Linked DNA regions of Homo sapiens. The protein of the gene in region 1 purifies or fractionates together with the protein of each later gene. This does not show direct contact. Each region holds a gene or a part of one and is shown in the gene's direction. Other genes may lie near its edges. The genes, in order: CASTOR2, CCDC124 and MIOS.

Evidence for each region.
Region 2: the proteins of CASTOR2 (region 1) and CCDC124 fractionate together in Homo sapiens (co-fractionation; one large-scale study listed by BioGRID). This does not show direct contact.
Region 3: the proteins of CASTOR2 (region 1) and MIOS purify together in Homo sapiens (affinity purification with western blotting; one study listed by BioGRID and IntAct). This does not show direct contact.

Annotation. Positions count from the first base shown.
Region 1 is NC_000007.14:74,963,252-74,967,558, forward strand, and holds the start of CASTOR2 (cytosolic arginine sensor for mTORC1 subunit 2), read left to right. Parts: upstream 1-1,453; 5' UTR 1,454-1,734; coding exon 1,735-1,847; intron 1,848-4,307. UniProt on the Homo sapiens protein: Functions as a negative regulator of the TORC1 signaling pathway through the GATOR complex. As part of homodimers or heterodimers with CASTOR1, directly binds and inhibits the GATOR subcomplex GATOR2 and thereby mTORC1.
Region 2 is NC_000019.10:17,939,412-17,943,023, forward strand, and holds part of CCDC124 (coiled-coil domain-containing protein 124), read left to right. Parts: intron 1-3,244; coding exon 3,245-3,434; intron 3,435-3,612. UniProt on the Homo sapiens protein: Ribosome-binding protein involved in ribosome hibernation: associates with translationally inactive ribosomes and stabilizes the nonrotated conformation of the 80S ribosome, thereby promoting ribosome preservation and storage.
Region 3 is NC_000007.14:7,565,575-7,569,691, forward strand, and holds the start of MIOS (GATOR2 complex protein MIOS), read left to right. Parts: upstream 1-1,309; 5' UTR 1,310-1,498; exon of another isoform or gene 1,499-2,032; 5' UTR 2,033-2,114; intron 2,115-2,451; 5' UTR 2,452-2,549; intron 2,550-4,117. UniProt on the Homo sapiens protein: As a component of the GATOR2 complex, functions as an activator of the amino acid-sensing branch of the mTORC1 signaling pathway. The GATOR2 complex indirectly activates mTORC1 through the inhibition of the GATOR1 subcomplex.

The DNA of each region.
Region 1 (4,307 bases):
AGCTAGCTGGGAGGCCAAGGCACGAGAATCGCTGAACCAAGGGGGAGGAGGTTGCAGTAAGCCAAGATCGCGCCATGGCACTCTAGCCTGGGCGACAGAGCAAGACTCCATCTCGGGGGGGAAAAAAGAAAGTTAAAAAAAAAAAAAAATTAGCCAGGCATAACTGTAGTCCCAACTGCTGGGGAAGCTGGGGTGGGAGGATCTTTTAAGCCCAGGAGTTCGAGGCTGTAGTGAGCTATGATTGCGCCCCTGCACTCCATCCTGGCCAACAGAGCAAGACCCTGTCTCTAAAAAATAAATAAATAAAAGAAAAAGAGTAAAAGAAAATAAAGTGGGAGGGGGATATGCATGCTCTAAGATCTATCTACCACAGATTACAGGCTTTTCACCCTTTTGTGGAAATGACAAAACCTAGTATGTTCCTACCTAACAGAGGAGGGCTGAGGGAAGGTGAGGGAGCACAACTGCAATTTTCCCCTGAAAGAGAGTTCTCAGCCTGCCCTGGCAGATAGATCTCACCCATCGCGTCCCCAGATTACTCTGCCAAAGGTGGAAGCACCAATCACTTTAACCCAGAACATTTCAAAACCAGACAGCCATGAAGGAGGAACCTCTGTGGTCCCGGCGCGTGGGCCCTGGGGTTGGAAGTGCCTCAGACGCACTTTACATTTTCCCCGAATTCACCCTTCGCAGTCCCCATCACCCCCTCTCCAGTGGGATAAATGGCCACCTCATTAGCTCTGCACACATGACCCTCCCGACCTGACTCCTGGTGACTATGCCTGCCTTATCTCTTTTCTCTCCTCCCTCACATTTTCCGCTGCAACAAAGCCAAACACAGCACCGTGGGGGCTTTCACGCTTCTGTGCCCTAGGACACGCTGTTCCTGCAGCCTGGAAGGCCTCTGTCCTCCATCCGCGCGCCCTCACTCTCTTGCTACGAACTCCCATTCATCCTTCAAAACCCAGCCTGAGTGTCCCCTCCCCCGGGTCACCCCCTTTGACCTGTCAATCCCCTCCCTCCGGGTCCCCAGCAAGCTTTTCGGTTTGGCTTCTCTGCACTCTCATGACCGATTGCCCTACATCTTGGCGCTCCCAGACTCGGGCCTTCTCCAGCACCGGAGTCGTCTGGTTTGCTCGCTTTACACTCCAAGCACCTAGTACCGAGCCTGACTGGGTGCCAGAGGGCGCGCCTAGGCTCAGGCTGGCTCCACCCGCCCCGTGCCTCCCCTCGGCCTTCCCCTTAGTCCTGAGGGTGCCCGCGCTCCTGCATTTCCCGTGCACCGGGCTGCCGGTAGCTCCGGCCGCCCAGCCCCCGCGGCAGCAACAGCAGCAACAGCACCGGGGGAGCCCCCCCCCAGGCGGACTACAAGTCCCGGCAGGCCGCGCGCGGGCCGCGCATGCGCAGCGGGGACCGGCGTTTGAGTGGCAAGTTGTTTGTTACAGCGAACACCAGCTGCTCCCCGCGCCGGGCGCCGCGCGCCGCTGCTCCGCCGCTCGGCCCCTCGGCTGCTGCTCCGCCGGCGCTGCCTCCCTCGCCCCGCGGCTCCCCCTTGCAACTTGGCGGGCCTCCTCCCTTTTGTCCGGCCCGGCCCGGCCGCCGCCGCCCCCCGCGCCCGGCGCCGAGCTCCCGGGTCTCCGGGCCGGCTGTCGGTGCCGGCAGGGCGCGGAGGGGGCGGGGGCCGCGGCTCGTCCCCCCGCGGATGAGCCGCCGCGGACGGGGCGCGGGCGGACGATGGAACTCCACATCCTGGAGCACCGGCTGCAAGTTGCCAGCGTCGCCAAGGAGAGTATCCCGCTGTTCACCTACGGCCTGATCAAACTTGCCTTCCTGTCCTCCAAGACCAGGTAAGCGCGCGGGGACGCGGCGCCGGCCGGGGACAGACAAAGGGGGCGCACCCCGGGCCGCTGTCCTCGCCGCCGCGCCTCGGAAAACAACTTCGGGCCCCGGGAGCGCCCCCGCCCCGCCCCCGCCGCCGCTTCGCTCGCGTCTGACAAAGCCGGAGCCGCAGGGTCCTGGCTCCCGGACCCCTCGCAACCTTCCACCCCCCGGTGCGCCACCCCCCACCTCTGTCGTCCCCCCCATCTCCCACCCCCTCCCCCATCGCAGCCCCCTCCCCGAAATCCGGGGGGCTGGGGCGGCTGCAGTGACGGATCCGTGAATGGATGAAGGAACGAACGAATGAATGAATGAAAAACAGGTGTGGGGACGAGGCCGTGGAAAAAACAAACGCCCCCATCCCCCCATCCCTCGGTTGGGCCGGCCCCGTCGCCACGGCGGGGGGAGGGATTCCGCTGAGCGCGGTTACCCAGAGCAGAAAATCATAAAATCATTAGTGGGTGTTTATCTCAAGGTGCCTACGAGGCTTGCTGCGGACGGCCTGGAATTGCGGGGGGGAAACGGGGGGTGGGCGAGGGCCAGGGAGGGGCTGCAGAGGACGTGATTCTTTCTCCTTGGGGTCCTGGAAAGGGGGTGGGGGGGTGTTTTGCCCAACCGTAGAAGGGGAGGAGCAGGCATGTTTATGCATCTGCCTTGAGGCTGGGCTTGGATGCTGCAGGGGGAAAAATAGTTGAAGGCCTTGGAAGGTAAAAGAGGGAATCACACACACACACACACACACACACACACACACTCTCTCTCTCTCTCTCTCTCTCTCTCTCTCACTTGGATTTTCCCTATGCCAGGTAAGGGTTTGACATTGTGAGCCCCGGTGGGTGCTTGCATTAGGGTTTTGTTGTTGTTGTTTAAGGAGCCTGAGCCGAGGGGAGTGTGAGTGCCAGCTAGCTGCTGTAACTTAAGTCTCATTTGCCCACCATTGTGACTGTTAAAAAGGAATGATAAAGTTGTTACTGGTTGGTTTTTCGCGGTTTGGGGCGGTGGTGGCTCTCCCTCACTGCAAAATGAATGAATACTTTTCGGGTCAAGGTTAGCGTGAAAATGACAGCCCCCTTAGGCTGCCCCCTTTGGCACTGAGCTCTAGGGACACAGGGAAATAATTCCAGCCTGTTATCTGCCTGTGAAAAGTTCTTGCTTGGAAATCTCACTTTGATGTGTGTGTCTGAGCCGGGTGCTCAGTCCGGCTATTGTTTGCGAGATGGAGCCAGACCTGCCGGTGGCATCTTGTTTACTTTCTTCTCCGGCTGCTCAGTAGGGGATGGAGATTTGAAATAGTCGCCAAGCCTCTGCCACGGAGCCTGTGCTCCCCGTTGATTGCAAAGGGTAATGATTAAACAGGTCATTTGAAAACAAAAGCCAACAGCTCGGATTCTGAACCGCGCCCCCACCCCTCACACAAAGCCCCCTCTGGCTGTTGACACCTTCAGATCCTGCTTCTGCCTGCCCTCTGCCCCCCACTCCCTAGCCGGGCTTGACGTTCCAAAGCTTGGAGGTAACAGAACAGCCTTGTTTTTCCTAGCCTTGGCCCTCAGCCCTGGGCAGCCCCCTGGCTGATTTCTCGGCCACCATTCAAATGAGAATGATGACTCAGGCTGCGGCTGTGCACAGGGCCTGGGTGCTGGAAGCGGGGGCATTTGGGGGCTTCTTAGAAAGGCAGCAAAGGGCAGGGTCCCTCAGCCCCTTTCCCTTGGTGGAGAGACTGGCCTTCTTCCAGCCCCCAACTCAGGATCCCCTTTGGGTACTCATGGATAGGCGTGTCTCTGGGGTCAAGCCCCCCTGCTGGCCTCTGGGAACACAAGAAGACCTGTCCCTCAGTGGGTCCCCCTTCCTCCCTCCTGCAGAAAGCAGCCTGTCCTGTCCCAGGCCCAGGTGACCCAGCTGACTAGTCCAGTTTCAAGATGACTCAGAGGCCAAAGGCCATCGCTGTGTTTCCATGGTCCGGCCTCAGAAGGTGCGGAACATTTGTCAAATGCCTGAGGACCTGCCACCCCATGCACTCTGAGCCCAGATCATGGCTTCAGGTCATGTGTGACCACAGCCCCCTGCCTGCCTGGCTGAGGCGAAGTCTGTCTCCTCTGGCTCACACTTCGTCCGTCTGTAAAATAGAGATAGCACTATTTGGCCCCCTCATGGACACAGAACTGCTGTGTGGATGGTGTGGGACGATTGTGGGAAATGGCTTTTTAGCAAGTGTTAATGGGTCGCAGCCTGCCGACATAGCATTTAAACTGTTTTCAATAATCAGCCATCCAGGTAGAACCCCTTAGATTGTTCCTGCAATCCCTGCCCCCAGGTGGTGACCCATAGCTCTGTCACTTCCCTCTCCAAAACCTAAGTTTAGCCCAGACTAGCACAGCATGCCCTGAGGGTCCCTGTGCCACCTGTTTACTTTTTTTTTTTTTTTTTTTTTT
Region 2 (3,612 bases), on another chromosome or scaffold:
AAACAAAAAGATCCAGTATCCAGACAGAATCCAGAGACCTTTCCGCCCATAGTGTCAAGATCATTGGCTTAATCCTCCCTGTGGCCTGCGTCTTGGCCACTGGGGTTGGCCCCATCCTCTGGATGAGGAAATTGAGGCAGAGAAGGCAGAAAGCCCAGATCACGTGGCTATGAGGAAGAGCTGGAGCCAGACTGGCACCTTCTCCTTTGTTAAGAGGCTTTTTTTTTTTGAGGCAGAGTTTCACTCTGTCGCACAGGCTGGAGTGCAGTGGCGCGACCTCGGCTCACTGCAACCTCTGCCTCCCAAGTTCAAACAACTCTCCTGCCTCAGCCTCCCGAGTAGCTGGGATTACAGGTGTGCGCCACCATGCCAGGCTAATTTTTGCATTTTTAGTAGAGATGGGGTTTCACCATGTTGGTCAGGCTGGTCTAAAACTCCTGGCCCCAAGTGATCCTTCCACCTCGGCCTCCCAAAGTGCTGGGATTACAGGTGTGAGCCACCGCACCTGGCCTTTTTTTTTTTTTTTTTAGACAGTCTCTGTTGCCCAGGCTGGAGTACAGTGGCGTGATCTCAGTTCACTGCAACCTCCGCCTCCTAGGTCCAAGCGATTCTTTTGCTTCAGCCTCCCAAGTAGCTGGGATTACAGGCATGGCACCATGCCTGGATAATTTTTGTATTTTTAGTAGAGATGGGGTTTCACCATGTTGGCCAGGCTGGTCTCCAACTCCTTACCTCAAGTGATCCGCCCACCTCGGCCTCCCAAAGTGCTGGAATTACATGCGTGAGCCACCGCCTCTGGCCTGTTAAGAGATTTGATTAAGGGACAGCAAAGCATGCCTGTCCTAGGAGTGTGGGTCAGAAAGCATGTACCTCTGAGCACACCTGTATTGCATGCATCCGGGACAAGGTATGGAGGGGGTTGGACAGGCAATTGGGGCCAGGTGGTGAATAGCTTAGACTTCACTTAGGGCCAGACAGGAAGCCACTAGACCCTATCATTGAGCATGAAGGCCACCACTGACAGTAGGTTAGCAAATAGGTGTGGCTGCATGCCCATAAAACTTTACCAAAGGGGCCGGGCATGGTGGCTCACACCTGTAATCCCAACACTTTGGGAGGTCAAGGCAGGTGGATTACAAGGTCAGGCGTTCGAGACCAGCCTGGCCAACATAGTGAAACCCCATTTCTACTAAAAATACAAAATATTAGCCGGGCGTGGTGGCGGGTGTGCGTAATCCCAGCTATTCCGGAGGCTGAGGCAGGAGAATCGGTTGAACCTGGGAGGCAGAGGTTGCACCATTGTACTCCAGCCTGGGCGACAGTGCAAGATTCCACCTAAAAAAAAAAAAAAAAGGGCCGGGCGCGGTAACTCATTCCTGTAATCCCAGCACTTTGGGAGGCCGAGGTGGGCAGATCACAAGGTCAGGAGATCGAGACCATCCTGGCTAACACGGTGAAACCCCATCTCTACTAAAAATACAAAAAATCAGCCGGGCATGGTGGCAGGCACCTGTAGTCCCAGCTACTCAGGAGGCTGAGGCAGGAGAATGGCATGAACCCGGGAGGAGGAGCTTGCAGTGAGCCGAGATGGCGCCACTGCACTCCATCCTGGGCGACAGAGCAAGGTTCCGTCTCGAAAAAACAAACGAACGAAAAAAACACAAAAAACCTTTACCAAAGAAGGCAGTTGGCTAGTTGGCTATAGTTTGTCAACCCCTGCTCTCTAGAATATTCTCAGCCCCCGTGAGTTTCCCTCATACCCCTCCTGGTCAGTCCCCCACCAGTGATACCTCTCCTCACTTCAAACATCATGCATTGGCCAGGCACAGTGGCTCACACCTGTAATCCCAGCACTTTGGGAGGCCAAGGCAGGCAGATCACTTGAGGTCAGGAGTTCGAGACCAGCCTGGGCAACATGGTGAAACCCCGTCTCTACTAAAATTACAAAAGATTAGCCAGGCGTGGTGGTGGGCACCTGCAGTCCCAGCTATTTGGGAGGCTGAGGCATGAGAATTGCTTGAACTCGGGAGGCAGAGGTTGCAGTGAGCCGAGATCGCACCACTGCACTCCAGCCTGGGCGACTGAGAGAGACTGTCTCAGAAAAAAAAAAAAAAAGGACCCTGTCTGAGGCAGAATGTGTGTGTGACACGCATCGGTCGGGGAGCCTCGGGACGTTGCCTCTGACCGAGGGGGAAACTAAGGCTCCTCAGCACAGCAATGGGAGCCCAGTTTGTGCACTCCAACAGCCTTGACTTTAACCGCCCCCTCCACTTTCCTGCTGTGCTGGTGGGGGTGGGGGTCAGGCCCTGGCAGTGTCCTTAGGTGCGTCCACCCCTATTCTGCGACATTCCCTTCTGTCAAATCTATCTGGAGATGCAGTGGTAGTGTCCCAGGGGGACACTGCAGGTGTGGGGATCGTCCCTGGGAAGGCTGAAGGTGTGAGAGTCAGATGGTGGAGTCTCAGGCAGTGAGGGGGCAGGCAGGGGTGTCCGAGACCAGGGCCCTGCAGGAGTGCCAGGCAGTGGGCAGAGTACTGCCCTGAGCTTCCAGCAGCACTGCATATAAACCGTGGGCTTGCTCGGCCCCCTGGGGTCCGTGCAGGCCAGGGCAAGGGCAAGTCCCGTAGCCCAGATGTCCCTCATCCAGCCAGCATCAGGGCTTCCCTGGGCGGCCGATGTGGAATCAGTTTCAGCCTCAGTGACCCACGGCAGGGAAACGTGGACAGTGCTGCCCGACTCATAAGGGCAGAGCCCCTGCCCTAGCCTGAAACGGGTCCAGGCCTCCCACGGCTCTTAGAATCCAACATGAACCCCTCCCTGGCCCCCAGAGGCTCCGCATGGCCCAGCCGTCTCCCTCCCGGCCTCTTCCCCCTCCCGCTTCACTCCCACTCCAGCCTCCAAGCTGTTCCTGTTACAACAAATGGCTCCTGCCTCGGCGCCTTTGCACTGGTAGCCCTGCTGCTAAGGACGCTCCTGTTCCCCAGCTCTCCCCCTTGGCCGGCGCTCTTCGCACCTAGGAGCGTCACTTCTTCAAGAGCCACCCACCCGCCCTGTCCAAGGTTCCCCTGTTGGCCTCACATCCCCCGCCCAGGGCAGCACCGGGACCTATCTTGTTCCTGGTATGTCCCCTGCACCCAGCACAGAGCCTAAATCCTCGTTGGCTGAGATGAAAACTCGAACCCCAGGCTAGTGGGTGGCGCGGGGGTGTGGGGTCTTCTGCCTGACCATGCACGCCGCCCCCGCAGGAGGAGAAGGAGAAGCGGCGCCTCGACCAGCTGGAACGTAAGAAGGAGACGCAGCGCCTACTGGAGGAGGAGGACTCCAAGCTCAAGGGCGGCAAGGCGCCGCGGGTGGCCACGTCCAGCAAGGTCACCCGGGCCCAGATCGAGGACACGCTGCGCCGAGACCATCAGCTCAGGGAGGCCCCGGACACAGGTCGGGCGGCATCCCGCTCTGGAGCTGCACTTTTGCCCACTGCAGAGGCAGTGGACCTTGAGTCCATTAGCCCCCTCCTGGCCCCCAGAGAAGCTGCCGGGGCTCCACGTGGTGCAGGGTGGGTGGGTAGGCCGCCTCCTGGTAGGCCTGGCCGTGAGCAGACAACCTCAGGGCTTGT
Region 3 (4,117 bases), about 67 Mb from region 1:
TTGGGAACAAAAAACTTGGAATCCTCTTTCACCGTCATTCACTTGGTCAGTCACCAAGCTCTGTTCATCCCGCCTTCTAAGTATTCCCCAGGGCCCCCACTTCTCTCCATGCCCACTCTCCGTGCCACTGGTAACCTGCGTTTCTATCATCCCTCATTCTGATACTCTATCCCTCCAGCTCTCTGCGCAAAAACTGATCATACTGGCCGGGCACAGTGGCTCATGCCTGTAATCCCAGCACTTTGGGAGACCGAGGTGGGCGCATCACGAGGTCAAGAAATGAGACCACCCTCGCCAACATGGTGAAACCCCATCTCTCCTAAAAATACAAAAAATTACCTGGGCGTGGTGGCGCGCGCCTGTAGTCCCAGCTACTCGAGGTGCTGAGGCAGGAGAATCGCTTGAACCCGGGAGGCGGAGGTTGCAGTGAGGAGAGATCGCGCCATTGCATTCCAGCCTGGCGATATAGCCAGACTCCGTCTCAAAAAAAACAAAACAAAACAAAAAACTGATCATACCACTTGCCTGATTAAAAACTTTCGATGACTCTAACATTGCCTTTAGGTAAATGCCATCCAAACTCACTAAACTGGTTTCCAACCCGTTTCTGAAAGCACCTTAATCTCTCCCCACTTCCTCTGCTCATTCATCCATACCTACTGCCTCCTCACTGCTATGTCCTCTCTCCTGACCCGGCACTTGCTCTTTCCCAGTCCTAGAAGGCTCTTCTCTTCCAGTTCCCACTGCCCTTTTCCCTTTCCTGGCTAATCCCATACTCATCCTTCTTGTCTCAACCTAGTGGTCCTTAAGGAAGCTTTGCTGACCCCCGACACCGAGCGGGCGTCCCTCCTGTGTAGCACTGTGTTAGCCCTACCAAGTCAAGGCTCTCCTTGCCTGTTTCCTGCCGGAACCATGTCTTTTTACTTCACTCCTGTCTCCTCAGCATTCCAGCACAGTGCTGGGTACATAACAGGTGCTCAAGACAAGTTTGTGGAATGACTAATGAGTGAATAAATCATTAACCAAACACCTTGGATCTCCTACTACATCATTTGCAAAAAAAAAAAAATGTTTAATAGAAATTAAAATGGACCCAGTGAGCTAGAGTGTGTGACCCTGCTTAAAAACGACAGAGTGGTTCTGAGAAGCAGTCCCAGCCTAGGAACCCGGGGATCCGGCCTGTGGACCCACGGGCAGGGCCTGCGGGGTGCACCGGCGCTTTCGGGCGGAAGGCGGGGCCTCCCGGCCAGTGACCCCGCCCCGAGGCGCCTCCCGGGCGGGGAAGGGCGGGGCTCGCGCTGGGAAACTCCCCTTCCAAGGCCGAGGCGCCGCTGCGCGTCCTCCAGGCGTGGTGGTGGGGTCGTGGGTCCCAGCCCAGTGGTCCAGGTCACGGGCCGCACGGCCGCGGCCGCCATCTTGCCCGCGTCCGGGCTCCTGCGGCGGGCGGGGCGGTGTCCCGGCCGGAAGCGGCTGTGCGGCGGCCGCGCTGCCACCTCAGGTCAGTGAGCGCGACCCGGTTCGCGTCTCGACTCTCGGGAGCGCCGCGGCCGCAGCGAGGGGCCGGAGATAGCCTAGTTGAAAGGCCCGGGCGTCTCGGCGGGGAGCGCGTTCCGCGCTGTAGGGTAATCGCGCCGGGCGGCCGGCCGCCTGGCCGGGCCTCAGCGGGAGCCACCGGGGGCTGCGGGCGGCCGTGGGACCTGCGGAGACCTCCTCGGGGCGCAGGGAACACGCTACAGCCTTCGCCGCGGCGGGCTTGTGGGGAGCGGCGTCCCAGCCTTTCCCGGGAGGCTCAGCCAGGTGCCTGGAGCGGGAGAGTCGGACTCAGATTCCTGCTTTACCTAGAATAGCAACGTGCCCTGTTCCCGTTGTACCCTCTTAAATACTATACTTCTTAAACGGCCTGTCTCCCGGTGAGCTCTGTTCTCTTCTCATATGAGTAATGAAAATTAAGAGGATGAATGAAACCTCACACATGTTGTGGACTTTGCTGAATAGGTTAGCAAATGACTGCAGGCCTTTTGTATATTTTAAGGGAAATTTGGATATGTGCAGTGCATCTCCTCGAAGATGCTGATGGTGGAAATTTCTTGAAACCGCTCTCGTAATTTGCCACGGTAAGAAAAGTAAAAGACAACATCAAAAAGCATGTGGTTGGATCCTTTGTACACTGAGTAGTATTTTAATGTGTTGGACTTCACTGTCCAGTAGCCACATGGGATTGAGATGTGCTATAAGTGTAAAATACACATCGGATTTCCCAGAGTTGGTGCCAAAAAAACGTAAAAATCCTCAATAATTTTTGCATTGATTACATATTGAAAGGATAATGCTGTTGATATGTTGGCTAAATAAAATGTGTTTTTAAATTTCATTCCACCTAATTTTACTTTTTAAATGTGGCTACTAGAAATTTTTAAATCATATGGCTCACACTGTATTTCTTTTGGACAGTGCTGTTGCAAATATTCTGGTGAATGAACACAGAATCAGCATGGCTTTCCTTTGCTGAGAAATCACTGATGGGAAGTGAGACTTGTTAAACTTGAAAGGTGAGGATATAAATACAAGCTGTAATTATTGCAGACCGCACCCCTTCTACACCTAATTTTTTAATGTCTCCAAAATTTGGAAAAAACATTAACTTTCAGGGCTGATTAAGGGAATGGTAGTAATACTAACATCTGTGTGATGTGAAGAGCTCATTTCAGTTGATTGTCACAGCTTTGTGAGATGGAAATGGGATAGATTTTATCTCGGTTTTATGGTTTTGGAGTATTACAAGATTTGTTAGGATCTGAGCTGGGGAGTGGCTGTAGGATTTCTGACTCTAGATTGTTTTCTTTACACCAGATTCTTGGTGATGTATGTTCATGAGCAAGGAACTGTTTATCCTGTATATTACATGGTGAAAAAAAATACACTTCTTAAAAGGGTGGACATAGATGCACCTCTCTATACAGGGCTACTCTTATGATGTGCAACCTGTGCAGTAGCACAGAGCCCAGCATTTAGAATGGCTAGCACTTAGTTTAATGGCCAGTCTGCTGTCACTGTCTGGACATTGTAAATAATTTTTAAATGAGGGGCCCTGCATTGTTATTTTGCACCACGTCCTGCATATCGTGTAGCTGATCCTTTTCTTTGCAGTAATCTAGGACGGAAGTTGAGAGACCTTGGATAACCACCCAAACATCTGGTCTTCACTTTACTCCTTTGTGAAATTAGAAGATTTAGCTAGTCTTTTTCTCTCAAGTTTTGATTCTGTATGAATTACTGTCATCAGATTTTGTGGATGGCAATAGAAGTATTTTAGGTGCATAACATGGGAAGAAATGCTGATATTCTCCGTTGAGAGTCATGTAAATCAAAGTTTTAAATTTTATGCTAAAACTCGTATTTTATGTTTTGTAAGATGGATTTTTCTTTGTGGCATCAAGATTGCTTACCATAGACCATTGGTATAAAGAGTCGGGTTGTGGAATGAAAGCCTAGATAAAAAGTGTGTTTATTTAAACATTGATTTTTCAATGAGATGGGAAAATGGCCCAGATCTCATGATGTCTCCAATTAAGAGATTTCCTTTGTGGGGGTATGAGTATGAACCCTTATTTGGCAGTATCTGTTCCTCTTTGCTGTCGTAGCTGCTTCCTGTTACGTGAGGTGCCCCTCTTCCTCCTCATTCTTAAATTTTGAAACTCTTTTTAAGGTTGGACTTAATTTTATCACTACAGTGCAGGTTTTTTTTAGACCAGAGACTTCATCGGCTCATGTTTGCTGCTGTGTTCCCAGCTTCATAACCATGCCTAGAACATAGAAGGTGCCCAATCAATAGTCACAGAATAAATGAAAGTATAATAGCAGACATTTAAATCTTGGCCGGAGCCAGCCTCTCCTAGGGAGCGTAGAAGTGGAAGCATGAGGAAATAGGTAAAACTTGGAGATAGCAGTTGTGAGAAGTGTCAGAGGGATCATTCAGCACATGCATTTATTTAACAAATGTTTATTAACTTCCTACTAAGTGCCTAGCACTGTACTGGGGACTAGAGGTACAATGGAACACCAAAAATACTTCACCTGCTCTCATGGAGTGTATAATCCAGTAGAAGAGACAGAGATG